7 linked regions of the Homo sapiens genome follow. The protein of the gene in region 1 purifies or fractionates together with the protein of each later gene. This does not show direct contact. Each region holds a gene or a part of one and is shown in the gene's direction. Other genes may lie near its edges.

The links.
Region 2: the proteins of PTPRA (region 1) and DENND4A purify together in Homo sapiens (affinity purification with mass spectrometry; 2 studies listed by BioGRID and IntAct, with this or other methods). This does not show direct contact.
Region 3: the proteins of PTPRA (region 1) and ASNSD1 purify together in Homo sapiens (affinity purification with mass spectrometry; 2 studies listed by BioGRID and IntAct, with this or other methods). This does not show direct contact.
Region 4: the proteins of PTPRA (region 1) and XPO4 purify together in Homo sapiens (affinity purification with mass spectrometry, with the first as the bait; one large-scale study listed by BioGRID). This does not show direct contact.
Region 5: the proteins of PTPRA (region 1) and XPO6 purify together in Homo sapiens (affinity purification with mass spectrometry, with the first as the bait; one large-scale study listed by BioGRID). This does not show direct contact.
Region 6: the proteins of PTPRA (region 1) and KCNMA1 purify together in Homo sapiens (affinity purification with mass spectrometry; one large-scale study listed by BioGRID and IntAct). This does not show direct contact.
Region 7: the proteins of PTPRA (region 1) and TPCN2 purify together in Homo sapiens (affinity purification with mass spectrometry; 2 studies listed by BioGRID and IntAct, with this or other methods). This does not show direct contact.

What each region holds. Positions count from the first base shown.
Region 1 is NC_000020.11:3,026,602-3,030,674, forward strand, and holds part of PTPRA (receptor-type tyrosine-protein phosphatase alpha isoform 1 precursor), read left to right. Parts: intron 1-85; coding exon 86-179; intron 180-519; coding exon 520-596; intron 597-1,105; coding exon 1,106-1,240; intron 1,241-4,073. UniProt on the Homo sapiens protein: Tyrosine protein phosphatase which is involved in integrin-mediated focal adhesion formation.
Region 2 is NC_000015.10:65,683,844-65,687,916, reverse strand, and holds part of DENND4A (C-myc promoter-binding protein), read left to right. Parts: intron 1-4,073. UniProt on the Homo sapiens protein: Probable guanine nucleotide exchange factor (GEF) which may activate RAB10. Promotes the exchange of GDP to GTP, converting inactive GDP-bound Rab proteins into their active GTP-bound form.
Region 3 is NC_000002.12:189,663,995-189,668,003, forward strand, and holds part of ASNSD1 (asparagine synthetase domain-containing protein 1), read left to right. Parts: intron 1-1,381; coding exon of another isoform or gene 1,382-1,457; intron 1,458-2,046; coding exon of another isoform or gene 2,047-2,117; 5' UTR 2,118-2,138; coding exon 2,139-3,602; intron 3,603-3,769; coding exon 3,770-3,951; intron 3,952-4,009. Other genes in the region: ASDURF protein, read left to right, coding at 1,382-1,457, 2,047-2,117.
Region 4 is NC_000013.11:20,798,049-20,802,121, reverse strand, and holds part of XPO4 (exportin-4), read left to right. Parts: intron 1-1,131; coding exon 1,132-1,291; intron 1,292-1,796; coding exon 1,797-1,966; intron 1,967-2,782; coding exon 2,783-2,957; intron 2,958-4,073. UniProt on the Homo sapiens protein: Mediates the nuclear export of proteins (cargos), such as EIF5A, SMAD3 and isoform M2 of PKM (PKM2). In the nucleus binds cooperatively to its cargo and to the GTPase Ran in its active GTP-bound form.
Region 5 is NC_000016.10:28,103,680-28,107,752, reverse strand, and holds part of XPO6 (exportin-6), read left to right. Parts: intron 1-75; coding exon 76-231; intron 232-1,255; coding exon 1,256-1,370; intron 1,371-1,538; coding exon 1,539-1,710; intron 1,711-3,045; coding exon 3,046-3,207; intron 3,208-4,073. UniProt on the Homo sapiens protein: Mediates the nuclear export of actin and profilin-actin complexes in somatic cells.
Region 6 is NC_000010.11:76,951,979-76,956,051, reverse strand, and holds part of KCNMA1 (Calcium-activated potassium channel subunit alpha-1), read left to right. Parts: intron 1-2,127; coding exon 2,128-2,251; intron 2,252-3,892; coding exon of another isoform or gene 3,893-4,015; intron 4,016-4,073. UniProt on the Homo sapiens protein: Potassium channel activated by both membrane depolarization or increase in cytosolic Ca(2+) that mediates export of K(+). It is also activated by the concentration of cytosolic Mg(2+).
Region 7 is NC_000011.10:69,083,310-69,087,382, forward strand, and holds part of TPCN2 (two pore channel protein 2), read left to right. Parts: intron 1-635; coding exon 636-707; intron 708-1,900; coding exon 1,901-1,977; intron 1,978-2,361; coding exon 2,362-2,443; intron 2,444-2,538; coding exon 2,539-2,621; intron 2,622-3,213; coding exon 3,214-3,295; intron 3,296-3,802; coding exon 3,803-3,897; intron 3,898-4,073. UniProt on the Homo sapiens protein: Intracellular channel initially characterized as a non-selective Ca(2+)-permeable channel activated by NAADP (nicotinic acid adenine dinucleotide phosphate), it is also a highly-selective Na(+) channel activated directly by PI(3,5)P2 (phosphatidylinositol 3,5-bisphosphate).

The sequences.
Region 1 (4,073 bases):
GGAGGTGCAGGCCAAGGGACAGGCATAATCTTGTCAAGTTCAGTTACTGGGATCAGTAATGTTTCCCCTCCCCTTCCCAATTCAGAAGTTAACATCAATCAAAATCCAGAATGACAAGATGCGGACTGGAAACCTTCCAGCCAACATGAAGAAGAACCGTGTTTTACAGATCATTCCATGTAAGAGCCCTCCCGCCACTCCAAAGCCTTATTGCCCCATCCCTCAATTCCCTCCACCCCTTCCATTTCTCAGGTACTAGTTAATGATTGGCGTATAGACAAGAATCATGGCATTGCCTCTTGTTGCACCCACTTAACAACATGGCGTTGCCTTTTGTTGCACCTTAGTGGCTTCTGGAAATAACGTAAAAGCCAAAGGCTTTCTCCCTAATGAGCTAGGAACAGACATGTCCTTGCCCAGCTGGGATTCTGTCTGCCCAGGGCCTGAGGTGGGAGCAATGCAAGGAGAGGGAGAGGACAAATGATATTGGCTAGCCATAAGCCGCTATTCTTCTTACAGATGAATTCAACAGAGTGATCATTCCAGTTAAGCGGGGCGAAGAGAATACAGACTATGTGAACGCATCCTTTATTGATGTAAGTGGTGGGTGTGACCCCTGAGCCCCCAACACCCCGTGGAGATTCAGCCAGCACTTGCAGTGCCTCCCTCCCATACCTGCTGGGGAGGATCATGTTTGAATCAGTCAACAAATAGTGAATTGATACTCACCCACCCACTCACCCTGTGCATTAGGTCTGTCCAGCTCCATAGAGCAGAAGGTGGGGGAAAACAGATGGCATGCAGTAGTATAATACCTGGAAGAAAAAGTTCACAGAGCAGACCACAGCCAAGAGGAACCTGGCTGCCCCCTGATCTTTCCCATTCCTGCCCTCTTCATCCTAGCTCTAATCCCTGTTCCACTTCCCTGTCTCTTACAGAAAGCAACCAGCTTGTCAGATAGGGTTTCGTCCTTGGCCACAGGGGAGCTCTGCATGGGCTGAGTTTGCCTCCGAGCAGTCCCCATTCCCTTCTAGTGGTCTGTCTTCTCCACTAGTCCCTCTGTGATTAAACCATCTCACCCTTGCAATTAACCTGGCCTGTGCAGGGCTACCGGCAGAAGGACTCCTATATCGCCAGCCAGGGCCCTCTTCTCCACACAATTGAGGACTTCTGGCGAATGATCTGGGAGTGGAAATCCTGCTCTATCGTGATGCTAACAGAACTGGAGGAGAGAGGCCAGGTGAGTTCAAAAGGTCCTGGGTGGTGAGAGACAGAGACAGCATGAAAAGATGTGTGTGTAAATGGGGACGTTGGGAAGGCAAGAAGGTGTTTGGACCTTGTCTTTGACTTATACGGTCCAAAGAGTACGTTTGCATAGTATAAGTACATACTTAAAGGTATATAAATACATATGCATTTCCAGGATTGCCCAGCCCGTTGGTGTCTAAGCAGTCATTAGCTTCTCCCAAGACTAGAAAAGCAATGTGATCTGAGCCTCCATGTTATTCCCAGACAGCTCACACCCTTGCACTTTCTCCTGAATACAGTCCCCCTAGCCTAGCCTTTGCACAGTGCCCCAGGCGGGGGGGGCACCCTCTCCTTCCCAGTGCCCCAGGCAGGGCAGATAGGTCAAGGTTCTGAGGTGGACCCAATATGAGTGTCCCTAAGAAGGGATTGCCTCATTGCTGACTACATAAAATAAAGCAGTAGAATTTGAGAAATTATACAAACAAGAAACTTACAGTCTAATATTCAGTAATAAGGAAATCTTTTAAAGAAAAAAGCCCTCAGGTCTATTAAAAAGCAGAGCTGTCCGGAAACTCATACTAAAAAGGGACACTAGCAGTCCCCTAGGTCAACTTCCTCTCAGTATAGGAAACCTCCTAATATTGTTCCTGAGTCAGAATCATACAGCCTCTACTAAGCACATTCAATCTCAGGGATATCTCCCTCACCCCCCACATTATGGGGGGACCCAGTCTGTGTTCTGACAATGCTTATTCTTTTAAAAATTATTTCTGTTGAGGTTGCACATTGCAGCAAATGAGCGGTTCACTATGTCTGGGGTGTCACTTAGCAGGGATGAGAATCTAGAGAATGGGCCTGGAGAGAAGCTAGCAAGGCCTGGTGAGAAAATTCCTTCTAAGCCACAGTGAAGAGTTTGGTCTTCCTAAAGCAATTGAAGAGCCCTTGACAACATCCCATTTGTGTTTTTTAAAAAATCCCTCTGGCAGCAGTGAGAAGGACTCATTAGAAATGCGAAAGCTGTGGCAGTAATGCTGGTGGCCTGGACTCGGGTGGTGAGAGGGTGCTGTCCCAGAAAGGGTGAAGTGAGGAGGAATTAAGGATGGCACCCACTCATGACTCATTGAATTTATAGTCAAACATTTAAAATACAAAGTATGTTTTACATTAGTTGTCTCAAGTCACTAGTTGTTCCCCATCTGTACTTGTGTTAACTTTGGTACAAGGCTTTACACATATTTTCTCACCCTGATGTTTCATTACATCAGGATTTTTTTTTTTTTTTTGGTTTTGTTTGTTTGTTTGTTTGTTTGAGAGAGGGTCTCACTTTGTCACCCAGGCTGGAGTGCAGTGGCACGATCTTGGCTCACTGCAGCCTCAACCTCCCAGGTTCAAGTGATCCTCCCACATAGCCCTCCAAGTAGCTAGGACTAAAGGCACGTGCCACCATGCCCAGCTAGTTTTTGTATTTTTTTGTAGAGACAGGGTTTCACCATGTTGCCCAGGCTGGTCTTGAACTCCTGGGCTCAATTGATCCACCCACCTGGTTGACCCAAAGTGCTAGGATTACAGGTTTGAACCACCTTGCCCGGCATTTTTTTCAATTTTGATCAGTCATTTAACTCATTAGCTATTCTTCCTAGACTTGTATCATGTACCTAATCAACAGACATACTTTGTAGGTCTTCATCATCTTTTTTTTTTTTTTTTTTGAGACGGAGTCTCTGTCACCCAGGCTGGAGTGCAGTGGCACAATATGGGCTCATTGCAACCTCTGCCTCCCAGGTTCTGGCAATTCTCCTGCCACAGCCTCCCTAGTAACTGGGATTAAAGACACCCACCATCATGCCTGGCTAATTTTTGTAGGCACGGGGTTTCACCATGTTGGCCAGGCTTGTCTCAAACTCCTGACCTCAGGTTATCTGCCTGACTCAGCCTCCCAAAGTGCTGGGATTACAGGCGTGAGCCACTGCGCCCAGTGTCTTCATCATCATTAATAACAATACTGATGAGGTGGGAGGTTCGGTTAAGGTGCTTGGCTTTGCACTCAAGGAAGCACACACCTGAGTAACAAAAGCTGTTTAGGAAATGAGCCACTGTGTTCTCAGGAGCTAGGTGCCTGTTCCTGCCGTCTCTGATCAGTCGTGATGGAACCTGCAGATCAGACCAGGGCCCTACCTGTGGTTCCTTCTGCACCCCTGCCCTTCAGATCTGTGATGGGCAGGACCAAAGAGCAGGCCGAAGAGCTGGAACCACGAGCACAAGGACCATCTCGGCCCACTGCCCTGTGATAAAATGTGGCCCAGTGAACATCTCCGCCTCTGTCCAGTCAGATGCAGGCTCTTCCATCCTTGAAAAGGACCTAGTGAGAGTAAAGGGCAGGGGGCAGGAAGCATTTCATGTGTGTGGCGGTGGGGAGAAGAGTCGTGCGCACACAAATTCTGCTGCCTGTTGAGTGAGGCCTCTCCCTCTGCCTTCCACTGTAGCTTATGCTCTGTCTTCCTAGGCCAGTGAAGCAGACAGTAGTGCTTGCCCTCAAAAGCTTCTGAGTGGATTGGAACAGGATGTTAGTGATGTTCTTTACAAGGCCTCACTGGCCCCCAAGTTCACTTTCTGTTCCATTCATGTTGTCAAGTGTAGCTCCCAGAAGTAATTAACGCACTAAGCCTAAATGATGCAATGAAAGGTGCCTACACTTATACAGTGACACTACCATCCTCACCTACAATATTAAGTTCCCAGAGAAAAAAATTCGATCCCATAATATAAATTCTGTACTTACAAATTAAAATCTCGAAGGAATTAAAAATTTTTAATTATCTCCCTCT
Region 2 (4,073 bases), on another chromosome or scaffold:
TAGATACAAGAGACTCAGCAAATTACAGACAGAATTAAACTCAAAACCACACTTGCACACATCAAAAGTAAACTAAAAATCAGAGATATTCACCTGCTAACAAGAAAACGGCTGCTAAAAAAAAATTAAAATACACTGAAAGCTGTTAAAAAATTATTCATTACCTACGGAGCCATAAAGATTTGAATGTACCCATGCACTTTTCATCACAATCCTTGGAAGAATTTAGTGGAATGGTGCCTTTAACGCATTGGAAGAAAAGACCTGTCAACTCAGAATTTTATATCCAGTGAAAATATTCTTCATGGGTGAAGGTGAAATAAAGACATTTTCAGATAAAATAATTCATGAGCAATGGGATTGCTCTATGAGATATGCTGAAGGAAGTTATTTAAACTGAAGAAAAATGATACCAAAGAGAAACCTGCATCTTCAGGAATAAAATAAATGCAAAATAAATGGTAAATAGCTGGTTATTAGAAAAGATTACTTTTTTGCCTCCTAAACTGAAAAAAAAAGAAAAGAAAAACCTATAATTGTCCAAAACAAAAATAGTAACATTATCTCATGGAATTTTAAATATGCATAGATGTTTGACAGTAGTGAACATCAGTAGTAAAGGAACTTACCCCACAGACCTTCATTATAGTTATATTATTAAATATGAAATGATATAAAACTAACTCCAAGTAGACTTTAAATGATTAGATATGTATATTGTAATCCCTGGAGCACTGAGTTAAAAAATACAGTGAGATGTAGCCAAAAAGCCAATAAAAATATTCAAATAGTCTTACAGAGAACAGGAAATCTTAAAGAGGCCAAGAAAGGGGGAACAGAGAAATAGACTAGATCTAACCATATGAATAATTAAATGATAACAATCTAAACACCTCAATTAAAAGGCAGACTTTGGCTAGGCATGGTGGCTCATGCTTGTAATCCCAGCTCTCTGGAAGGCCAAGCCAGGAGGATTGCTTGAAGCCAGGAGTTTGAAACCAGCGTGGGCAACATAGCAAGACCCTGTCTGTACAATTTTTTTTTTTTTTTAATTTTAACTAGCTGGCCATGGTGGCACATACCTATGTAGTCCTAGCTACTCAGGAGGCTAAGGCAGGTGTGTTGCTTGAACCCAGAAGTTCAAGGCTGTAGTGAGCTATGATTGTGCCACTGCACTCCAACCTGAGCAACAGACTGATCTCATAATAATGAGGAGTTGGATGTTATGGTGTGTTCCTGTAGTTCCAGCTACTCAGGAGGTTGAGGTGGGAGGTCTGGATTGCTTGAGTCCAGGAGTTCTAGGCCAACCAGGGCAGCATAGCAAGACTTTGTCTCTGAAAAATATTGATTATAAGAAACAGTTCATCAGGAAGACACAATAATTATCCATGTATATTCACTAAATCACAGAGCCTCAAAACAATGACACAATTGGTAGAATTAAGGGGAGTTCTAAATCTGAGTAGGAAATTTAAAAACGCTCAGTTGATAGAAGAGGTAACAAAAATTGGTCAAGACAAATCTCAGCAACACAATCAGCTACTTTTATATAATTGACATTTATAGAATATACACTCAACAACTACAGAATACACTATTTTCAAGTGTATACAGTACAGTCATCAAGATAAACTATGTTTGGCTATTTAAAAAACCTCAGTCAATTGAAAAGGATCCAAATCAAAGTACATTGTAAAGAGTTACAGAACATTACTGAGGGATTTTAAAAGAGATTTAAATAAATGGAGAGACATGCCATGTTCATGGAATTGAAGACTCGGTATTGTTAAGCTGCAACCCTCCCTACATTGGCATCTAAATGTATATCAAAATTGCACCTATCAAAATTCTAGCAGGATTTTGTAGAATTTGACAAGCTGATCCTAAAATTAATATAGAAAATAGAAGGACCCAGCATAGCCAAAACAATTTGGAAAAAGAAAAAGTTGGAGGACTCACACTTCCCAATTTCAAAATTTACTACAAAGCTACAGCTATCAAGACTGTGCTGCTAGCATAAACAGAGATGAATAGATGAGAGAATAAAATTTAGACTCCAGAAATAAACTCTTATGTTTATGGTTATTTAAATTTCAATAAAGATGCCAAGGCAATTCAATGGGGAAATGATAGTTTTTGTCAAAAAATGGTGCTGAGATAATTGGATATCTGCATGCAAATACAGTCAGACTTCTGTATCTGCAAGTTCTGCTTCCATGGATTCAACCAACCACAGATTGAAAATATTACATAAATACAAATAATACAGTATAAGAACTATTTACATAGCATTTACATTGTATTAGGTATTATAAGTAACCTAGAGATGATTTAACTTGTACAGGAGGATGTGCATAGGTTATGTGCAAATACCAACCCCCTGTGGATACTGAGGGATGACTGTAGGTGAATGTAGACACTCAACTTATATACAAGCATTAACACAAAAAGGATAAGATGTCTAAATGTAAGAGCTAACACTATAAAAATTGTGGGCTGGCGGTGGCTCACGCCTGTAATCCCAACACTTTGGGAGGCCAAGGCAGGCGAATCACGAGGTCAGGAGATCTAGACCATCCTGGCTAACACAGTGAAACCCCGTGTCTACTAAAAATACAAAAAATTAGCCGGGCACGGTGCCAGGCGCCTGTAGTCCCAGCTACTCGGGAGGCTGAGGCAGGGAAATGGCGTGACCCCGGGAGGCGGAGCTTGCGGTGAGCTGAGATTGCGCCACTGCACTCTGGCCTAGGCGACAGAGTGAGACACGGTCTCAAAAAAAAAAAAATTGTGGGCGGGGCGTGGTGGCTCATGCCTGTAATCTGAGAACTTTGGGAGGCTGAGGCGGGCAGATCCCCTGAGGTCAGGAGTTTAAGACTAGCCTGGCTAACATGGTGAAACCCCCGTTTCTACTAAAAATACGAAAGATTAGCCAGGCATGGTGGTGCATGCCTGTAATCCCAGCTACTTGGGAGGCTGAGGTAGGAGAATCGCTTGAAGCCCGGAGGCGGAGATTGCGGTGAGCCAAGATCGCGCCATTGCACGCCAGCTTCAGCAACAAGAGCAAAACTCCGTCTCAAAAAAAAAAAAAAAAAAAAAAATTGGAAGAAAATATAGGAAGAAAATCTTTTAAGACCTTGAATTAAGCCAAGAATTCTTAGGTATGATACCAGAAACAGTCTATAAAAGGAAAAATTGATAAGTTAGGCATTATCAAAATTGAAGACTTTTGTGATCCAAAAATGAAAATGTAAGAAAATGAAAAGCCACAGACTGGGGAAAAGATACGCAAATTCTGTATTTAGTAAAGGACTTGAATCCATAATATACAAACAACTCACACAGCTCAATGATAAGATAAACAACCCAAGTTAAAAATAGATCTAAATAGATATTTCACCAAAGAAGAGATATTAATGGACGAAAAGCACATGAAACATGTTCAACATAATTAGTTATTAGGCATTAATTGCATTTGGAGCCACAGTGAAATCCCATTTCACACTCACTAGAGGAATGGCTATAATCCAAAAGATGATGACAAGTGGAGGGGATGTGGAGAAATGGGAACCCTCATACTTTTTTGGTTGGGAATGTAAAATGGTACAGCCACTTTGGAAAACAATTTGGCAGCTTCTTTAAAAGCTAAGCATTAATTTAACATATGACCCAGCAGTTCCACTCTAAATAATCTACCCAAGAGAAATGAAAACATAGACTACACAAAGATTTTATGTGAATAATCATAACATTGTTCATAAAAGCCAAAAAGTGGAAACAACCCAAATTTCCGTCAACTGGAAAATAGGTAAAATGTGTTATACAGTGGAATATAATTGAGCAATACAAAAGAACGAAATACTGATACATGCCTTAAAAATTGGTGAACCTCAAATACATGTTTATTTTAAGTGGATTAAGCCAGATTTTAAAAGACCAAATATTGTATGAATCCATTGATATGAAATGTCCAGAAAAGGCAAATCTGTAGACACAGTATATTAGTGGTTGCCTGGTGTTAGGAAGGCAATGGAGATTAACTGTAAATGGGCATGAGGTATCTTACTGGGGTGGTA
Region 3 (4,009 bases), on another chromosome or scaffold:
TATTTATGTTAACTATATATTAAAGTTATAAGAAGTATATATAAGATTTAATCATACTTTAATAAAATGTATAGTATTTCAGCATCTTTTAAAATTGCAAGTGTCTAGATTCTTTTTTTAAATGGATAGATCTCATAGCTGAAGATGTCTTTTTTCTATCATATGCCATTCACATTGCCTTTGCAACAAATGATACTAGTTGTATTTTGGTATCTTGGAGCTATAATCACTAATGATGTTTTATACCTGAATTTGATGTTTTCTTTTGATATAAACGAACTTTATATTGAGATGAGAAGAAACTTTTCTTTTAAATGAATGTGGATAATTATTGAACAAAAAAGGATACATTGCTTCCCCTCCCTCCAAAAAATTTTTACATAGATTTTCCTAAATGTGTAACATGGTTATTTAATGCCATTTCCATTAATATGTTACAAACAAGTAAGCTACTGCTTTGTGTATGGTTATAGTGTCAAATTGCATTTTAACATTCAGGAAGAAATGAGTTTGAGCTCTTAAAAGCTTTGTAAAGATTATGTAATAACTGGCTGGTTAGATATTTCTGATATTGTCACTTATGGAATATTAGAAGTTGAGGCACATACAAAAATTAGCCAGGCGTGTGCCTGTAATCCCAGCTACTCAGGAGGCCGAGGCACAAGAATCGCTTGAACCTGGGAGGCAGAGGTTGCAGTGAGCTGAGCACACCACTGCACTCCAGCCTAGGCTACAGAGCAGGACTCCTTCTCAAAAAAAAAAAAAAGAAGTTGAGGCAGAATTAATACAGACTTTCTCTAGAGGGCAAATTGGCAAAAAGTCTCAACAATTCAAAACTATAACACTTTGACCCAGCAGTTCCATTTATAGTAGTTGATACTTAGGAGAGAATCATGGTAGTGCACAAAGATTTAGTTACAAAGATAATCATCACAACCTTGATTTACAATAGCAAAGAGATGGTAACACCTTAAATGTCTAGTATTTGAAGCTGAGCAAATAAACTGTAATATATTATATCTATATAGCAGTAGGTATAATTTGGTCACCATAGCTTGCTTTGGCATTTTGGTGTTCTTGTAAAAGAACACTTACTGATAAGAAAAAGTATTCTCAATATATTGCTCATTGATAAAAGCATAAATCTGCAGGTACAGTAAGAACCTTTTTTGTTAAAATGGAGAGAAAATAGTTTCATTTCAGTAGTAGCAATTTCTGGTAGTTGGGCAGTGGGTGACTTTTATTTGTCTTTTTGCTTGTCTGTATTTGCTAAAGTATTGTACTGAATAGATTTTCAAGAATTAGTGATAATAGGGTTTAAGGATTTTAATATCTACTTTTTAGATCAAAATTTGATATTAGCCTAAATTATGTTTTCCAGAAAGTATATAGGCAACAACAGAACAGCAATATATTCTTTCTTGCAGACCGAACAGAAATGCTGTCTGAGAGCAAGAGTAAGTTTTTTCTTTTTTGGGGTTTTTGGGGGGTGCCTAAATTATACTCATCTGAGTGTTAAAATATATATCTAAAGATTAATGCAGCAGTTTGATTTTCTTCAAATTAGGCTTCCGAAGATGAGTCAACAGTTATATATATATGTGTATATATATATATATATATATATATATATATATATATATATATATATATTATAAATGTTTTAGAAAGCAATAGTTATTAACATGTGCTTTAGAATTTTAAACAGGTCTAAGTATGACAAACCATTACCACTTTCTACCTTTGTGACTTTGGGTGAAATACTTTAAGCCTCCAAGGTATTGTGGGATCTAAATAAGATGCTATGTTAAAAGTGCTTAGCCAAGTGCTTGGGCCAAAATCAGCACTCGGCAAAACAGAAGCTATTTTTCTAAAAGATAAACATTCTTTATTAGTAGCCTGTTGTTAATTATCATTGGTACTGGCACAGTGTGTGTGTTTATATGGTTTGATTTTGGTAAACAGCTTGTGTTGCCCTCTGAATTGCTAGGTAAAAGTCCAAGAATTTTTATGTTATTTAATATTTATTCTCCTTCCCTGCAACAGATATATTGGATGAACTGAAAAAAGAATACCAAGAAATAGAAAACTTAGACAAGACCAAAATCAAGAAATAGTCAACCTGATTTCACATAACAATGTGTGGCATTTGTTGTTCTGTAAACTTTTCTGCTGAGCATTTCAGTCAAGATTTAAAAGAGGACTTACTATATAATCTTAAACAGCGGGGACCCAATAGTAGTAAACAATTGTTAAAGTCTGATGTTAACTACCAGTGTTTATTTTCTGCTCACGTCCTACACTTGAGGGGTGTTTTGACTACCCAGCCTGTGGAAGATGAAAGAGGCAATGTGTTTCTATGGAATGGAGAAATTTTTAGTGGAATAAAGGTTGAAGCTGAAGAGAATGACACTCAAATTTTGTTTAATTATCTTTCCTCCTGTAAGAATGAATCTGAGATTTTGTCACTCTTCTCAGAAGTACAAGGTCCCTGGTCATTTATATATTATCAAGCATCTAGTCATTATTTATGGTTTGGTAGGGATTTTTTTGGTCGCCGTAGCTTGCTTTGGCATTTTAGTAATTTGGGCAAGAGTTTCTGCCTCTCTTCAGTTGGCACCCAAACATCTGGATTGGCAAATCAGTGGCAAGAAGTTCCAGCATCTGGACTTTTCAGAATTGATCTTAAGTCTACTGTCATTTCCGGATGCATTATTTTACAACTGTATCCTTGGAAATATATTTCTAGGGAGAATATTATTGAAGAAAATGTTAATAGCCTGAGTCAAATTTCAGCAGACTTACCAGCATTTGTATCAGTGGTAGCAAATGAAGCCAAACTGTATCTTGAAAAACCTGTTGTTCCTTTAAATATGATGTTGCCACAAGCTGCATTGGAGACTCATTGCAGTAATATTTCCAATGTGCCACCTACAAGAGAGATACTTCAAGTCTTTCTTACTGATGTACACATGAAGGAAGTAATTCAGCAGTTCATTGATGTCCTGAGTGTAGCAGTCAAGAAACGTGTCTTGTGTTTACCTAGGGATGAAAACCTGACAGCAAATGAAGTTTTGAAAACGTGTGATAGGAAAGCAAATGTTGCAATCCTGTTTTCTGGGGGCATTGATTCCATGGTTATTGCAACCCTTGCTGACCGTCATATTCCTTTAGATGAACCAATTGATCTTCTTAATGTAGCTTTCATAGCTGAAGAAAAGACCATGCCAACTACCTTTAACAGAGAAGGGAATAAACAGAAAAATAAATGTGAAATACCTTCAGAAGAATTCTCTAAAGATGTTGCTGCTGCTGCTGCTGACAGTCCTAATAAACATGTCAGTGTACCAGATCGAATCACAGGAAGGGCGGGACTAAAGGAACTACAAGCTGTTAGCCCTTCCCGAATTTGGAATTTTGTTGAAATTAATGTTTCTATGGAAGAACTGCAGAAATTAAGAAGAACTCGAATATGTCACTTAATTCGGCCATTGGATACAGTTTTGGATGATAGCATTGGCTGTGCAGTCTGGTTTGCTTCTAGAGGAATTGGTTGGTTAGTGGCCCAGGAAGGAGTGAAATCCTATCAGAGCAATGCAAAGGTATGACACAGTGTTTCTTCTCCTGAGAATTCCTGAGACCTATTTTTGACCCTTAAAGCTTTTAGCATTTTGATTGTAAGAATATAGCATATTTTAGGTGCATTTATCTTATTTTCTTTACTGTGTAGTTGATAACATTTTTATACGGATTTCTTTAAACCTCATAGGTAGTTCTCACTGGAATTGGTGCAGATGAGCAACTTGCAGGTTATTCTCGTCATCGTGTCCGCTTTCAGTCGCATGGGCTGGAAGGATTGAATAAGGAAATAATGATGGAACTGGGTCGAATTTCTTCTAGAAATCTTGGTCGTGATGACAGAGTTATTGGTGATCATGGAAAAGAAGCAAGGTAATTCTAATCATTTGAGTGTTCTTACGGTATTTTTATAAAAACAGCAGAGTGTAAA
Region 4 (4,073 bases), on another chromosome or scaffold:
TGTGTCTGGGCATACTGCAGCCTGGGTGACAGAGCAACTCTGTCTAAAAAAGAAAAAAAATTAGAAGAGATTCTGGGGTGGAACCTTAAAAACCTCCTGATTTAAAGAAGAAGTTCAGGAGAAGAGGATGCTGCCATGAAGACTGGGAAAGAGGAAGCAGATGGCTAGATGAAGAGAGGAAGGGCAGTGACCCCAGGGAGGCTGCAGGAAGATAAGGGCAGTGACAGTGGGCCATCCAGTGGGGTAAAGAACTGAAACACGTGTGTATGATTTCATGATGAGATCATTTCAGGCTTCCTGAGAGCACTAGTAAAGGAGCATAAGCCGAATTTGAGTGATTAGAATCCTTTTCTCAGCACTGATATTCATTAGTGTGTAATGGGGTCTTTCCATTACCTCCTTTGCTTCCTTGCCTTTTGGCTAAAGTCAGGTTAAATATATATCACTTCTGATTATGTGCCCTCCTCAACAAAGACATTTCTGTTTGTCTGCATGTCACGCTATGTGATTGACACCACACGACCATATGAATTATGTAGTGTAGGAAAGGACAATATGTGTACTTACACAGGTAATCTTTCTAGCAAGAGTTTTATTTAAAAATACCATGAAGAATCAAGTTTACTAGGAAATATTGGATTTAAACAAGGCTCAATATTCAAAACTTTCTAAATAATTCCCAGATCTTGTACTGTAACATGACCATGATATAAAAACACAAACTATACTAACCAGGGTAGTTTTAAGTAGTGATGCTAAGTAGTACATGCTAAAAGAGTTTGGCATGTACTCTGAAGATTTAATTTGATGTATTTCTCCTGAAAATCTGAAAATTTTGAATCTGAAAATTCTCTTTAGCTAGTAATGCTGATATTCACACATGTGGTTACAACTTCAGCAGAAGGACATCTCTAGTGTTGACTCTTCCTTTCCTTATCTTGTCTCCTGCTTCGTGAAAGATCAGAAATAATATGGGACAGTTGTCTAAAACTCTGTAGATGAAATGTTCAAGTATAGCCTGACCTAAATCCAGAGAACTGAAAGACAAAAAAGGACTTTTAAGGAAAAAAATATGATTAGACAGCAACTAAATAAATAAAAGAATAAATGACTTCTGTTTTATACCTACAGGCTGTTGTCTGCCATTCTCAGAGTTTCAGAAGTTGAATCTCGAGCAATAAGAGCAGATCTCACTCATCTACTAAGTCCCCAGATGGGCAAAGATATTGTTTGGTTTTTAAAACGCTGGGCAAAGACTTATCTCCTGGTGGATGAAAAACTGTATGATCAGGTCAGAATGTAAAACTTAAAACTTCATTTGGATTTATGATGATAGCAGTTATAGAAGCAGGAACATTTTTCTTGGTGGTTTTTCATCAAAATAGAACTGTTTAAGAGCAGTTTAACATTTTCTGTGTGGAAGAGAATTATGTGACTGGAATGCTGTTTTAATGTGTTTTTGAGCACATCCCTTGATATCGTTTATTTTAACTGCTGTTGAAGATACAGATTATTATTTGGGAATAGATTATGCTTTTTTGTATTTGGTTTAATACTATGTTAATTTTTTAATACTATGGGAATAATAGAAGTTGACGGGAAAATCACACTGGAAAATGTGAGTGGATTGAGGATGTCTTTTTTTTTGACCAGTGGAAATGAGTACATGTGTAAAGTTGATGTGAAGTAAGCACTACTTCAGATTAGATACTAATTTCAGTTCGATTTTTCTCTGTTTTTTTTTTCTTGAGTTGATCTTTCTTGCTTACCTTAAAAAATTTGTTTCCTCTCTTAAGATAAGTCTGCCATTCAGTACAGCGTTCGGAGCAGATACAGAGGGTTCTCAGTGGATAATTGGCTACCTCTTACAAAAAGTCATCAGTAACCTCTCAGTCTGGAGTAGTGAGCAGGACCTTGCAAATGACACTGTGCAGCTCCTTGTCACTTTGGTGGAAAGAAGAGAAAGGTTAGCCCATTGTTGGAGGCTGACTGTGTGTGTATGTGTGTGGGTGAGAAACTCTTTTTCACTTCTTAGTGTAGTCCTTTGAACTGGCAAATGGTTACACGGTCCTAATTCCAGATAGAGCCTACATTTTTGGAGTAATGGGTTTTAAAAACTATGTCACAGTACTATTACAAATGCAAATGGAGCTTTCCCATCTTATAATTGAGCATTACATTGACTCCTTCAGGATTTGGCATCAAAGCCCTATGAGTAACACATTAGTAATTTATCGTGTTGCAAACACTTTTATGTGGAATATGCTCATTTGAATTTTTAGACATCCCCATTTTAAAGATTAAATACTGATATTTAAAATTTAATGTTGGAAAGTAAAATTTTTAGTGCTTTCTACAACAATTCTAGAAATGTTTTCGTTGTTCTTACTGTATAGGAGTATCATTGTTATTATTACCATTGTCATTGTCTGGTTTATTGAATTCTTATAATTTACTATGTACTCTTCTAAGCATGTCATAGGTAGTATCTCATTTAATCATTATATCAGTCTCAGCCCCAGGAGACTGTTATTATTCCTATTTTGCAGATTATAGAGAAGTGATGATTGATAGAGGTTAAATAAATTTTACATCACCAGACAACTAGTGGGATTTGAATGTAAGCCTGTGACTTCAAAGTCTATACTAAGTTTACTGTACTTTGCTTTAACAGTAATTAAATCTAGTTATTTTTTATTTTTGTTTTCTTTGTGTGTATATGTGTATGTGTGTATGTATATACATAGTAATACATCTTATGTTTTGTTATTTCTACCTGTAGGGCAAACTTAGTAATTCAATGTGAGAACTGGTGGAATTTAGCTAAGCAGTTTGCAAGCCGAAGCCCACCTCTTAATTTCTTGTCAAGTCCTGTGCAGAGGACATTGATGAAGGCTCTAGTCTTAGGAGGTTTTGCACATATGGACACAGAAACCAAACAGCAGTATTGGACAGAGGTAACAGTGCTGTCTATTTTGATTGCACCCTTTTGTGTAACTCTGTAGTTCCTTTATCTATGCGTTGCCGTAAGAGTCTCTGGAGACATAAATGTATCAGTCATAGCTTTTCTTTCTTTCTTTCTTTCTTTTTTTTTTTTTTCTGAGATAGGGTCTTACTCTGTTGCCCAGGCTGGAGTACAGTGGTGCAGTCTCAGCTCATTGCAGCCTCTACCTCCCAGGTTCAAGCGATTCTCCTGCCTCAGCCTCCCAAGTGGCTGGGACTACAGACTCATGCCACCATACCCAGCTAATTTTTGTTTTTTTTAGTAGAGACGGGCTTTTGCCATGTTGGCCAGGCTGGTCTCGAACTCCTGGCCTCAAGCAATCTGCCCGCCTTGGCCTCCCAAAGTGCTGGGATTACAGATGTGACCAGCCACTGTGCCCGGCCCAGTCATAGCTTTTCTGATATTTTTTCTCCTAATGAATGGGTTGAAGCTTCTTATTTTACAAATGTTGTCTTATAATTTTTCTGTACCTGCCTGTGTGTGATGACATTGAATATTATCAAGTGTTCTGCATTTTAGGCACATTTTTCACAACTCAGTCGAGAGCATGGACTGGCTTATTAAATTTTCATTAGGGATCAGGGAAATATTCTCCTGTCTTGAATAAGATGCAGATTAACCATGATATTCATTTCCTAGGGCTGCTCTAACAAAATACCACAACAGAAATTTGTTTTCTCCTACTTCTGGAGGCTAGAAGTCCAAGCTATAAGGTGTCCATGGGATTTGTTCTTTCTGAAGGCTATGAGGGAAAATCTGTAGCCTCTGGTAGCTTGCTGGCAGTCTTTGGCATTCCTTGATTTGTAAACGCATCACCCTGATCCCTGCCTTCATCTTCACATGCTCCCCCTGTGTGTGTCTGCATCCACACTTCCCCTTTCTATATCAGTTATATTGAACTAGGGGCCCACCCTATTCCGGTATGACCTCATCTGAACTAATTACATCTATGACAACCCTATTTTCTTTTTTTTTGAGACGGAGTCTTGCTCTGTCACTCAGGCTGGAGTGCAGTGGTGTGATCTTGGCTCACTGCAACCTCCACCTCCTGGGTCAAGCGACTCTCCTG
Region 5 (4,073 bases), on another chromosome or scaffold:
CCTCTCCCTTGTGTCTCCTCTTACCATGCTTTCTCCCCAGACAGCTTATAACCTGCAACTCATCTTGATTTGCAGCCAAACTGATTATCCACCAGACACTCAGCGTCTTAGAAGATATTGTGGAGAATATCTCGGGGGAGTCCACCAAGTCTCGACAGATTTGCTACCAGTCGCTGCAGGAATCTGTTCAGGTCTCCCTGGCCCTCTTTCCAGCTTTTATCCATCAGTCAGGTAGGAGCTGGCCCAGAGGCCCCACTGGTGGGTGGTGCTAACAAGGGCCAGAATACCCACTTAGATCTGTAGAACACACTGAGTCGGTGCAGTACAGGCCTTGACTTGTTCCGTGCAACGAAACCCGGTACTGAGGGGAAAGGGCAGTGATGTTTATTTGTGGAGTCTAGGGCCAAGGCCCTTTGGAAAAGTGAGCAGAGCTCTCCATATGGGCCTTGGCACCTACAAGAGAAGGCAAGAGAGCTTTTTTGGCTTAGTTCTCCTTATTTTGTGGCAAGGTGCATTTGCCGAGATCGTTCCCCTCACCCTTGTCTGTCACTGTCAGTGATAGAGGGCCTCTCTAGCTCTGTGGATGTACTTGCCTAGCTCTCATGACAGCATTATAGTAGTCTTGTCAGTTTTACAAGAGAAATATCAGGCACTTCTCAGTCAGCAAATATTCATTGCCTCTTGCAAGCAGATTGCGTGCAGTTAGGGCTGAAACACACTACACAAGATGATTGTTGAGATCTGGAAGTGAAACTGCCCTATATGTAACCAGTATTTTCTGCAATTAATCCATTTAATGGACCAGGGCCATGCAACCTAAATACACCTTCATTATCCACTTTCAACCACTTAACCCCTGACCCAGCTGCAGGGATTATTAGTCATAGGGGGAAATGGCTTAAGCACTCAGGTGTTGACCCAGTTGGCATTCATCAGTGTGGGCACAAAGTGATCCCTCTCCAGTGAAACTCTGACCATCACTGGATGTCGGGCAATGAGGGAGGGTTCGAGATGACCTTCATTTCCTGTAGTGAGCCACCAGGTGGAGGTTCCCTATACCAGAACTATTTTCTCAGCATGTCCCTAATCGTTTTCCACTTTCCATCATTGGCCCTGATGGTGTTGGGGAAATGTTTCCAGCAGGAAGCTGTAGAGAAAGCTGATAGTGCAGATTTCAGGAGTAGGTTGATGAAGCCCAGGGTTCTGGTTCTCACTGTGTGCAAGCCTCTGACGATATCTCTGCCCCTTTCCTCAGATGTGACTGATGAGATGCTGAGCTTCTTCCTCACTCTGTTTCGAGGCCTTAGAGTACAGATGGGTGTGCCTTTCACTGAGCAAATCATACAGACTTTCCTCAACATGTTTACCAGGTAAGCACAGACCCACCATCTATAGTTTTCAGATTCAAGGGAGAAGTGGTGGGTCTGGCGACAAAGTGTGGCTTTTTGCTCCTGTTCTGCACTTGCCACAGCATGGGTTTTCATGCTGGCCCCCAGAGAAACATGTGGTTGCTCACTGTGTGGCTTTCTCCTCTGTAGAGAGCAGTTAGCCGAGAGCATCCTCCACGAGGGCAGCACAGGCTGCCGGGTGGTGGAGAAGTTTCTGAAGATCCTGCAGGTGGTGGTCCAGGAGCCAGGCCAGGTGTTCAAGCCCTTCCTCCCCAGCATCATCGCCCTGTGCATGGAGCAAGTGTATCCCATCATTGCCGAGGTAGGGGCTCAGACGGTCCCCTGTGCAGCACCCCCCATCTCCAGATTGGGAAGGGAATGAGATTTCACAGAAAATGTATTGTGTTTTAAAGTTCATTTGTTAGTTTAATATGCTTGTAAAGTAGTTTCTCCCAAGGAAGAAGGCCTTTAGTGGTGTGGTACAGTGTTTTTATATTGATTGAGTTCATTGGAGCTAGTCTAGTGTAAGCATGGCAGTTATTCCACAGGGTCAGTTGCTAAGATCAGTCTCCTGCGGCAAATTTTATACCTTTAAGAGACTCTGGTTTTCTATAGCAAACATTCTAACATATGTACTTTCCTATTAGAAACATTCATGGTCTCGAGGATACAAGGCAAGTTCTTGAAACCATTCAAACAAACCTTTCAGTGTTACAGGAAAGCCCTTTGTCCTTCTTAGAAAATAGGCAGGCACTCAGCATAATAAGACCCGGAATAAGTATAGATTTAATTTCAGTTTTTTTGGTAATAGTCGTATAAATAAGAGTTAATCTTTAACTGTCTGAACTGAGACTGGGACAGGTCTGGTTGCTGTGCATTACGAAATGCACTGGGCCTATGAGGCTTCTTCTGTGGATGCTTGTGGCCCCTGGTGTCTATTTAATTTTAATCAAGGCTGAACTGAATATATGTGGGCCTTCTAATTTTGAATTCTGCAGAGACATTTGGAATAAGGGATTGGGGGAGTTGGAGTCAATGAGAAAACACTGCTGAGCCTGACCCTTCTCCTCTAACTCCTCTCAGAATCCTGGCTACTGGGAAAGAGGAGACTGGCCCAGAGAGCCTGGCTCCCAAGTGTTCTTTAAACCCTCCCCTTCTGGGGAGCAGAATCGCTTTAAGGCGTTGGGTCTGTCTTTAGCCTCCGTGGTTGTGTAAGACCAACAGGTTAGTGGGACAGCATTTTTTATCCTGGGAAAAGGAACAAGCAAGAAGATCTGACAGGTCGAATAGAACAGGAAATCCATACTCCTAATTGTTCATCCACTTGGTAGCTTTTTTCTAGTGTAAAAGCTGAGTGCTCATCAGAAAAAGGGGCCCTTGGCACTGACCCGTGCATTCTCTCTCAAATGTGGGCCATGTCTCTCCTGAAGAACTCGCGGTGTGAACCGCCAACTCCAGGGGCTAGATGTCTTTTGCACAGGCAGTGACAGGACTCCAGGGGCTGGATGTCTTTTGCGCAGGTAGTGACAGGCATGTGGATGGAGTGTTGACACTCGGCTTGCTGTCACGAGGCGTCTCCTAGGCATCTTTGCTGCCCTGGGCCCAGGCCGGAGCAGCTCCGCAAGCTGCAGGTCTGAGCGTCTGTGTGTCTTTGCAGCGTCCCTCCCCTGATGTGAAGGCCGAGCTGTTTGAGCTCCTTTTCCGGACGCTCCATCACAACTGGAGGTACTTCTTCAAGTCCACCGTGCTGGCCAGTGTCCAGAGGGGGATCGCTGAGGAGCAGATGGAGAATGAGCCCCAGTTCAGTGCCATCATGCAGGTAACGTGGGGGCGGGGTTGCTGCCAGGTGACTTCCTCTAACCTGACCACTGCAGCGAGTCCTGTCTTCGAAGCCCCACAGTCTCGGGTCTGAAGCTCAGTTCTGCCTGTTAGTATTGATGAAGTTAATTAATTTCTTGGAGCCTCAGTTTCTTCATCTGCAAAGTGGAGCTAATGTTGCCTGGGTCACAGGTTTGTTGTGAGGTTAAATGAGATGACATACACAAAGTGCATGACACTTGGAGATGCTTGATAAACGTCAGTTCCGCTGACCTCATAGTGCTGTTTCCCCAAGTGTAAAGAGCCTGCCTATGCCAGAGTCACCGAGGGCCTTCTTAGCGGGGAGCTGCCTGAATATGAGTCTCCGCAGGAGGGCCCCAGACCTGCACTGTGATTCTGACTCTGACCATACTGGGAGAAACACTGCCCTGGGAGGGAGCATTCGCTTTCAGGGCAGATGCAGCTGTCCATTGGAGAGAGTGCACTGTCTGGGGGCTAAATACCCCTTGCTGTGGAAGACTGGGACGGCATCACCTCGCCCAGACAGCCAGCCTGCTCTGTGGCTGTGTCAGGCACGCTCCCAGGGTCTGCACTCAAGTGTCTGACGTTCTCATCTGAGTCTAGCTAGGGGAGTCTCTTTTGGTATTTTCAGTGCATGCTTTTCCTCATGGGGAAGCAAGAGGGATTTCCACCCTCCCTCCAGCTCCCTACTAGCACACAGCATGCACACAGGCATGCACGTGCGCATGCGCGCGCACACACACACATACTGACTCTTGTGTGGCAGTTCTTTTCAGGCACGTGCCCTTGCCCTGGCCTTCCCATCCCTGGCACCCACCGAGGCCTCAGGTCTGCAGTACTCAAGTG
Region 6 (4,073 bases), on another chromosome or scaffold:
TTGCTGATATTATGGGAACATAGTTCTGAGTATCTTTTAAATCCTAAATGCACTAGGGGCAGGTCTCAGGTCATCCTGAGGTAATACTTTCTCTCCAACCAGTAAACAGGGCAAGAGAATTTGAACCTGGCTCTATATCTTCAGGGCAAGTCTGCTAATATCCTCTTGCAACTGAAATATGTTCTTCATGGGCTGGAAAGAGTTAATTTTGTTCATTTTCTCAAACCTCTTCTCCATGATGGCTTTTGTCTACCTACCTATTCCAGATAATATTAATAGATATCTATGCAACTGTTAAAGACTCTTCAAGGACAAAAACATCCCTCAAAATGTGCTCTCACCCTGATCTGTAAATAGTTCTTATCAGCCTTTTTATCTTAACATCTTTGACTAAGTTCAGTATTTGGAAGATGGCCTGGTGGTTTACATACCTCAAGACCTCTCAACAATCCAGACACTGAGATGCTACTCGGAGTGGGATTGTTCTTCTTTTAAGATCAGATATGACAGATATTCCTATAGTAGTCTAGCATGTTCGTTGAAGATAACTTTGCAAGTTGGCTTCACATAGTATTTGTCATTTGGTGTAGTCTAAAAGCAAATTCTCAGGCATAAATAAAGGCAGTGAGAAAGTTTTCTCACCTTATGTGGGAGTGGGGAGCATATTGGAGGGTCGTGGTAGTTATTCAAAAGCTTAATCCTAGGTTTTTGGGCCATGGAAGAGATTGCTGTCCCACTCTGTACTCTTGACATATAAGTGGGAAGTATCGGAGACATTTCAGAAGGACAAATAGTAAAAAGTAAATAAAAGTCAGCCTCTGCAGAGCGAGACTCTGTCTAAAAAAAAAAAAAAAGAAAAAAGAAAAAAGTCACCCTCTGATGTTGAAATATAGAATTTCAAAAGGTAAAATCACTTTACAATTTATGGAATGTGACCCGATGTATATTTTCTGTCTTGTGTTGACAATATTACTCAGAAAAGATAGCTCCATTTCAAGAGTGGTTAAGTATAGCTGGGACAATGTCCTAATTATATGGCCAGTTTTGCAGGAAGGAACAATGACTTCCCAAACCCGAGGTGCTGAATCACTATCAGAGATAAAAGCATGGACATTGACTATGATTCAAGGTGCAGGAGCTTATTTATTGTGCTATAAGCTTGTTAGAACTGCCTGATTCCATTGCAGTTCTTAAGGTTGTCAGTGAGGCTCTGCCAACCCACTAGACGGGAGGCCTTTATGGAAGCATCTTCCTTTTCCACCAATAGACAAGGCAATAGAGGGCGAATGTTGCCCTGAGAATTTGAAACAAGTTTATTAAGATGCATCTGAGCTTGAGGCTCTCATCTAAGATATGCAGCAGTTGGGAGGTGAAGGTGGTGGGGAGCATCATTGGATGGTTAGTGCATATACAGTTGTCAAGGCAAGGAGAGAGGGTGTTGTTTAGTATTGAAATCATGTATTCCAGATGTGGGCATTTGGTAGTCAGTCTGCTCTGAAGTGACATGCTGCTGAATCTTTAAAGGCTTCAGCCAGGGAGAGCAAAATCTGATTGGGCAAATTGCTAAAATATTTAAAGTGCAGCCTGTTAAAGCTTTTACTGCGAAGAGCATCACGTCAGAAGTTGTAGTCAGAAGGAGCGAGTAATTGGCTTTCCATCCTCATGCCAGTCAGTCAGCATGAGGCTCTATTCCTATTCCTTCCTCTTCATTGCCGAGGCTCATAGCAACCCTTTGGTGTGTCTGTCTGTGTGTGTGTATGTGTGTGTGTGTGTGTGTGTGTGCACGCTGGGGAGATCGAATAGCTGGTAAAATGAGAGGAAGAGGAGTGAGGTAGCCTTAAAAAGGGAGGCTGAATCCACAAAATGTTAGGAAGACCATTTAGGAAAAGAGGAGCGGGGGAAAGGCAGAAATGCTCCCTGACAAAGGTCACCTGCACTTCCAGAAGTGGGGTGGTGGTTTGGGGCAGTTGTCTCTCAAAGGATGGATTCTGTAAGCAGAAGAATGGCCTTCAGTGACAACCACTTCCTCTGCATCTTTCACATCCTCTGAGATGTAATTCAGGGGGCACTTTCCATTTATAATTTATCACATTTTCCACTTAGGTTTTCCTGTCCTTTTCTTCCCAGGCATGACCCCTTGTTAATTCCTGGCAATGATCAGATTGACAACATGGACTCCAATGTGAAGAAGTACGACTCTACTGGGATGTTTCACTGGTGTGCACCCAAGGAGATAGAGAAAGTCATCCTGGTGAGTGAGGGACTGTGCATCTGATGTTGCCCGCTTCTGCCCCAAACCACATTTGCTAGGAATGGGGTTTCCCTAGTTGGACAGTGGGATAATACTGTCCCTGGTCCTAATTATTTTTGATGAGTGAAATTCTGAGCATAGATTGAAGCAGCTAGACCTCTGATCAGAACATAAGCAATATTCAGATTTTTCAATCTCTGAATATATTGGCTCCTCATAAGAGTAGGTGAGCACTTGCTGTGGGAAAGCCATGGTGGGAGGTGGTATGAACATAATTCCTGTGGCCATGGCGCTGGTGTCAGAGCCTGCCTGTACCAATTATTAGCTGCATGGCTTGGGTAATTCATTTGACTTTTTGCACTTCGGTTTTCTTATCTGTAAAAAGATGAGATGAGAATGACCCTAACTCATAGGGCTGTAGTGAAGATTAAAATCCAACAGATGACTCAGTAAAGTTACCTCTTATTCTTACTATTATTAAATGCTGTGAGGAAAGCTGAATGCTGCCTGTATTGTTATTGGTTTATAGCAATGTTTTGTATTCTTATAGATAATAGCCTTGTGCATCTGTGAGCTTTCTTAGTGCATGTTGTAGACAGGGAAATGCATGATGATGCATGACATAATGATGACAATAATGAACTACAGTCCCCTTGGGGAGGCTGGGGCTCAGAGCCCTATTTCGTGGAAGGCTTGTGAACATCTTCATAGCAGCAGTGGGCTCACCCAGTCTCTCCCAGGAATGTCAGCATAGGTAACAATCCATTCTACTCTCTGCCCTTGTTCTATTAACAGCTTTGGGTCTTAATGCCTACACTGGCTTTCCTACAGTTTATTGTCTTGCTAATCCATGAGAAATGGATTAATAATCAGGAAAGTCAGATGGAAGGGTTCTTTCTCCCTTGGGCCTCTAATCCCCAGATTGGTATGGGTCTGTTCCTTTTTGTCAGCCAGGAAAATCCTATCATTTCTGATGTCAGGACCACCCTTCCTAAACAAGGACTGTTCTGGGTCCTCGGAATGGCTTTGTATGCTAACACACTGGACTTTCCCCTATGCTTTATCTATGTGTATGTGTGTTCTCAGCTTAATTATAAATGAGCATTAACAGCCAATACAGTATCAAGCTGGAGGCTGTCTCAGAGGTGGGAAAGTTGCAGGCAAGAGCACAGAAAGTCAGAATTCTTAGCAAACAGCTGTTGTCCAACTGACCAGGAGTGCAAATTGTTCTACTCGCAAAGCTGCTTCACGTATGTACATTCTTTTTGTTTTGTTTTGTTTTTTTGAGACAGAGTCTCGCTCTGTCGCCAGGCTGGAGTGCAGAGCCCTATCAGCTCACTGAAACATCTGCCTCCCAGATTCAAGCGATTCTCCTGCCTCAGCCTCCCGAGTAGCTGGGACTATAGGTTCGCGCCACCATACCCAGTTATTTTTTTGTATTTTTAGTAGAGACAGGGTTTCACCATATTGGCCAGGATGGTCTCGATTTCTTGAGCTCATGATCCGCCAACCTTGGCCTCCCAAAGTGCTGGGATTACAGGCGTGAGTCACTGCACCCAGCCATATATGTACATTCTGATGTATTCATGGCACTTTTGCCCTGGTGGCCTAAATTTAGCCTGATGTTACCACTTGTGGCAGGTCACAGGCTGGATGCCGTATCTGGGACCTAGGGTTTTAATGACTTGCCTGGATATTGGTGTAGTATGCATGCCAACTGATATTCAATCAACATCTCCTGCCAGCATAAAAAAGTTTAAGGAGGTGAGTTACTACTTCTATCCTATGAAAAATAACATCATTTAACAAAACATCTCCAGGA
Region 7 (4,073 bases), on another chromosome or scaffold:
CGTACATGCTGACTGGTCTCCACTGTGGCGTTCAGCTGTGTTGTCTAGTTTGGATTCCTCAGGTGGGTTGATGGGGCTGATGTGAAGGCCTTTCTCCCGGCTAGGCTGTGATGAGGAGGAGCGGCTCTTTGGAGCCGGGGCCTCCCTGCTGGTTCTCAGAGGCCCCTTCTCAGACTCAGTTCCTGCAGGTGCTCCTGCCACCTCTAGCTCTGCATTTCTTTGGCGTCTCCAGGCCACAGAGTAGCTGACCCACCTGCAGTGGGTTGGGAGGCAGAGAAGGGCCTCCCACAGGAATTTGAAGTCCGTGCTTGAATGAGGCTGGGGTGGAGGTGTTGGGATGCGGGAGTGGGTGAGTGAGTGCGTGCGGGTGGCGATGCAAGCGTGTGCGAATGCGTGTGGGTAGATGTAGGTGTTGGGGTGCGAGGGTGTGTATGGGTGGACGTGGGGGCCTGACAGGCTGTGTGGGTGTGTAGAGGCGTGTGGGGGTGGCTGTGGGTCCAGGTGTGTGTGTGTGGGTTGGTGGTCATTGGCCTGCCCCATCTTGCCTTTCTGTCAGGGTCAGCGTGGTGGGCCGGGATGGTGTCCCCTCAGTGGGGCCAGGAGGAGTAAGGGCTGTGCTCTCTTCCTGTCCTCAGCTGATGGCCGTGGTGGCCAGTACCGTCCTGGGCCTGGTGCAGAACATGCGTGCGTTTGGCGGGATCCTGGTGGTGAGTCCCAGGCTGCTGCTGGTGGCGGGTTATGCACTGGAGTGGGAGGCTGGGAGGCTGGCGGAAGGCAGTGCCGGGCCGGCTCACTGCTCTGTCGGTAGGAAGGTTCTTGGGTTCGGACGGCAGCAGGTTCCTGAGGCCAGGGAAGTACAGGGTCGGGGTAAGAAGCCAGAGGCATCCCCTTCTTTGTACAGCAGGGAGCTCGGGTGGTGTGGCTGGTGGCCCTGCCTGAGCATCCTTCCCTCCCATGGCAGAGACTGTTTGGTAATTTTTGAGTCTCTCGTGTTTTCTGGGTTGTGGATCTCGTTGAGAAAGTAATGACAGAAATTTAAGAGGCGCAGGGCTTTGCTCCAGGGACCCCAAAGCCTGCACAAGCCCTGGGATGAGGACTTGGTCGAGGCTCCTTTCTTAGAGGAATTTCAGGGACTCACAGCCACATTTGCTGAGCGAGAACTGTGGGACGCCCCGGCCCCTCCCTGGGGGCCAGCCTTCCAGCTGAGGAGCCCATCTGCTCTGCCTGGTGGCCGGGCTTGGGCAGGAGAGGGGCCTGTGACCAGGCAGGCCCCAGATCCGCGCCGTGCAGAGTGACAGGAGGCGCCCTTTGCAGGAAGCCCGGCCACACTTCAGGCAGTTTTGCCATTTTATTCTGACCACCTTGACGTAGGGACCACTGGGGTGAGAAGGTGTCTCTGGGGCCGCAGGGTGCTCTGGGCTGGACCCCAGCTGTGCCTCGCGCCTCTGGAAATAGACGCTGGGAAGAGAATCTTGCCTCAGGTGCTGTCTGCCCAGCCCCCTAACTTGCACAGCAGAGGAAACTGAGGCCCAGAAAGGGGACCAGGTTAGCCCAGGCGTGTACCCCTTCCACTCTGCTGACGCATGTTAGGGACAGGCCTGGGGTTGGCGGGCAGCCTGTCCCCTAACTGTGGCTGCCAGGGTACCTGGGGGCAGGGCCCTAATTCCCTTAGGAGCTCCATGACCACGCCTGCCTGAGCCCCACTGTGTCTGTGGACCCGCCAGCCCTGGGGGAGGCCAGCTGCGTGTGTTTTGAAGTAGCAGCCAGGCTGGAATCCCAGCCCTGGGCAGAGGGTCCTGGCCTCACAGTCATCCTCTGGCTTTGCGGTTCTGTCTGGGGAGGGTGGTGGTGGGTGCACCCATGGGTGGGGCTGATCAGTCCCCGGCTCCTGGCCCGCCAGGTGGTCTACTACGTATTTGCCATCATTGGGATCAACTTGTTTAGAGGCGTCATTGTGGCTCTTCCTGGAAACAGCAGGTGAGGTGGGGTCCGAGGTGCCACAGGGAGTGTCTCAGGGGTGCTGGGGTGGGCGGGAAGCCTTGGCGGTGGCCTCAGTGGGCTCAGCATCTCAGGATGGGAGGGTGTTCTCCCAGTTCCTTCGTCTCCTCCCTCCACCCCCTTTTCCCGACCCCCAATTTCCACCTCCGCTCCGCACCTCTCCTAGGAGCCCTTGCCTGGAGTCTGCTAAACACATTTCTCGTGGCCTGCTCAGAGCAGCACTTTCCCTGCCCTCTGAGCCTCTGTATCCCAATTTGTACCTTCAGGCCAGGCTGAGCACGCCAGCAGAGGAAAGGGGTGTAAGGTATCAGGCCTCAGAACCTGGAGCCCCCGCCCCTGACCCAGGTGTGTTGTGTTCCCCAGCCTGGCCCCTGCCAATGGCTCGGCGCCCTGTGGGAGCTTCGAGCAGCTGGAGTACTGGGCCAACAACTTCGATGACTTTGCGGTGAGCCCTGCGCCCTGTCCCAGCACCCTGCTCCCCGGGCTCCTCCCCTCCCTACCTCCTGGGCCCTCCTGGACCGCTGGTCTCTGCCCCCGCAGGCTGCCCTGGTCACTCTGTGGAACTTGATGGTGGTGAACAACTGGCAGGTGTTTCTGGATGCATATCGGCGCTACTCAGGCCCGTGAGTCCTCGTCTCCCTGACGGCAGTGATTCTCCGTGCAGCCTGGGGGTTCCCTCACCTCCGGGCACGCTGCATCTGCACTGGACGCCCGGAGCGTGGCTGGGACGGGGACTCGGGCCTTGACAGGGAAGTCGGCCAGCGTGGCATCCTGGCTTGCCTTGTCCCTGCCCCCTGCATAGCCACATCGTGACTCTCAGGATGGTGGCCAGTGACTCTGGGTTTACACCTCCTGGAGGTCGTTGGTGTGTTTGGGGCTTCTGAGGAATTCCATGGGGGTGGGGGAGCCCCGGGAAGGCTGAGTGAACGAGATAGTTCAGCTCTGAGCTTGAAGAGCTCAGACTGGCCCCAGCTGATGGTCCTGGGTTTTAATCCCAGCACCGCCTCCTGCTGGCTTAGCTACCTCGGCAGCTTGTTGCACGTTTCTAGGCCTCAGTTGGGTTGTTTCTGAGATGGAAATAGTAACGCGCTCTGCATCATGGTGTGTGTGGGCCGGCTGCCCGAGAGCTGTCCTGGCCACGCAGCAGTGGTGTTTGTATCGAGTGCTCTTGCTTTGCTCATCGTGGTTCACAGGGTGGGTCTCTGTCCTCCGCAGGTGGTCCAAGATCTATTTTGTATTGTGGTGGCTGGTGTCGTCTGTCATCTGGGTCAACCTGTTTCTGGCCCTGATTCTGGAGGTATCAGAGATCCCCACCCAGGCTGTTCTCCATGGTCGTTTGTTTCTAATTCACTCTCGATGGGCCTGAGGCCACCGGCCGGGCCTGCCTGGAACTTTGATGGGAGAGTCGTGCTGGGTTAGGCGGGTCCTGAGTGAGGCTGAGCCCCTCCCGTGGGGCTCAGTGCTGCCCGCCCTGGCTGCTGGGGCCTTGGGGAGTGCTCCTGACATCTGGGCTGCTGGGGCCTTGGGGGGTGCTCCTGACATCTGGGCTGCTGGGGCCTTGGGGGGTGCTCCTGACATCTGGGCTGTGGGGATTCTCAGGCCCCCAGGTCGGGCTGAAGGAGGGACTTGGACATTGGCTCCAGGAGGAGCCAGCAGCCTCGTGGGGCCTGTGCCTGGGTGTCCAGGGTGAATGGCTCAGCCCCCTCAGCGGGTGCCCTGTGGCTGACCCTGGAGGGGCCGGGGATGGGGCAAGGCTGCTTTCATTCGGGGCCCACACTCACTGGCCACTCCTCCTGCTTGCCAGAACTTCCTTCACAAGTGGGACCCCCGCAGCCACCTGCAGCCCCTTGCTGGGACCCCAGAGGCCACCTACCAGATGACTGTGGAGCTCCTGTTCAGGTGTGTGGGTGGGGAAGGCGCTTCTGTCTGGCCCCCTGGGATGGGAAGCCAAGAGCTGGGGGGTGGAGGGGTTGAGGCGGCGGGCAGGCCCTGATGACTGTCCTCCCCCTCCGCCCGGTTATCTGGCTTTGGTCCTGTGCTCTAGGAGAGCAGCTCAGAGCCGGGATCGGGGCGGC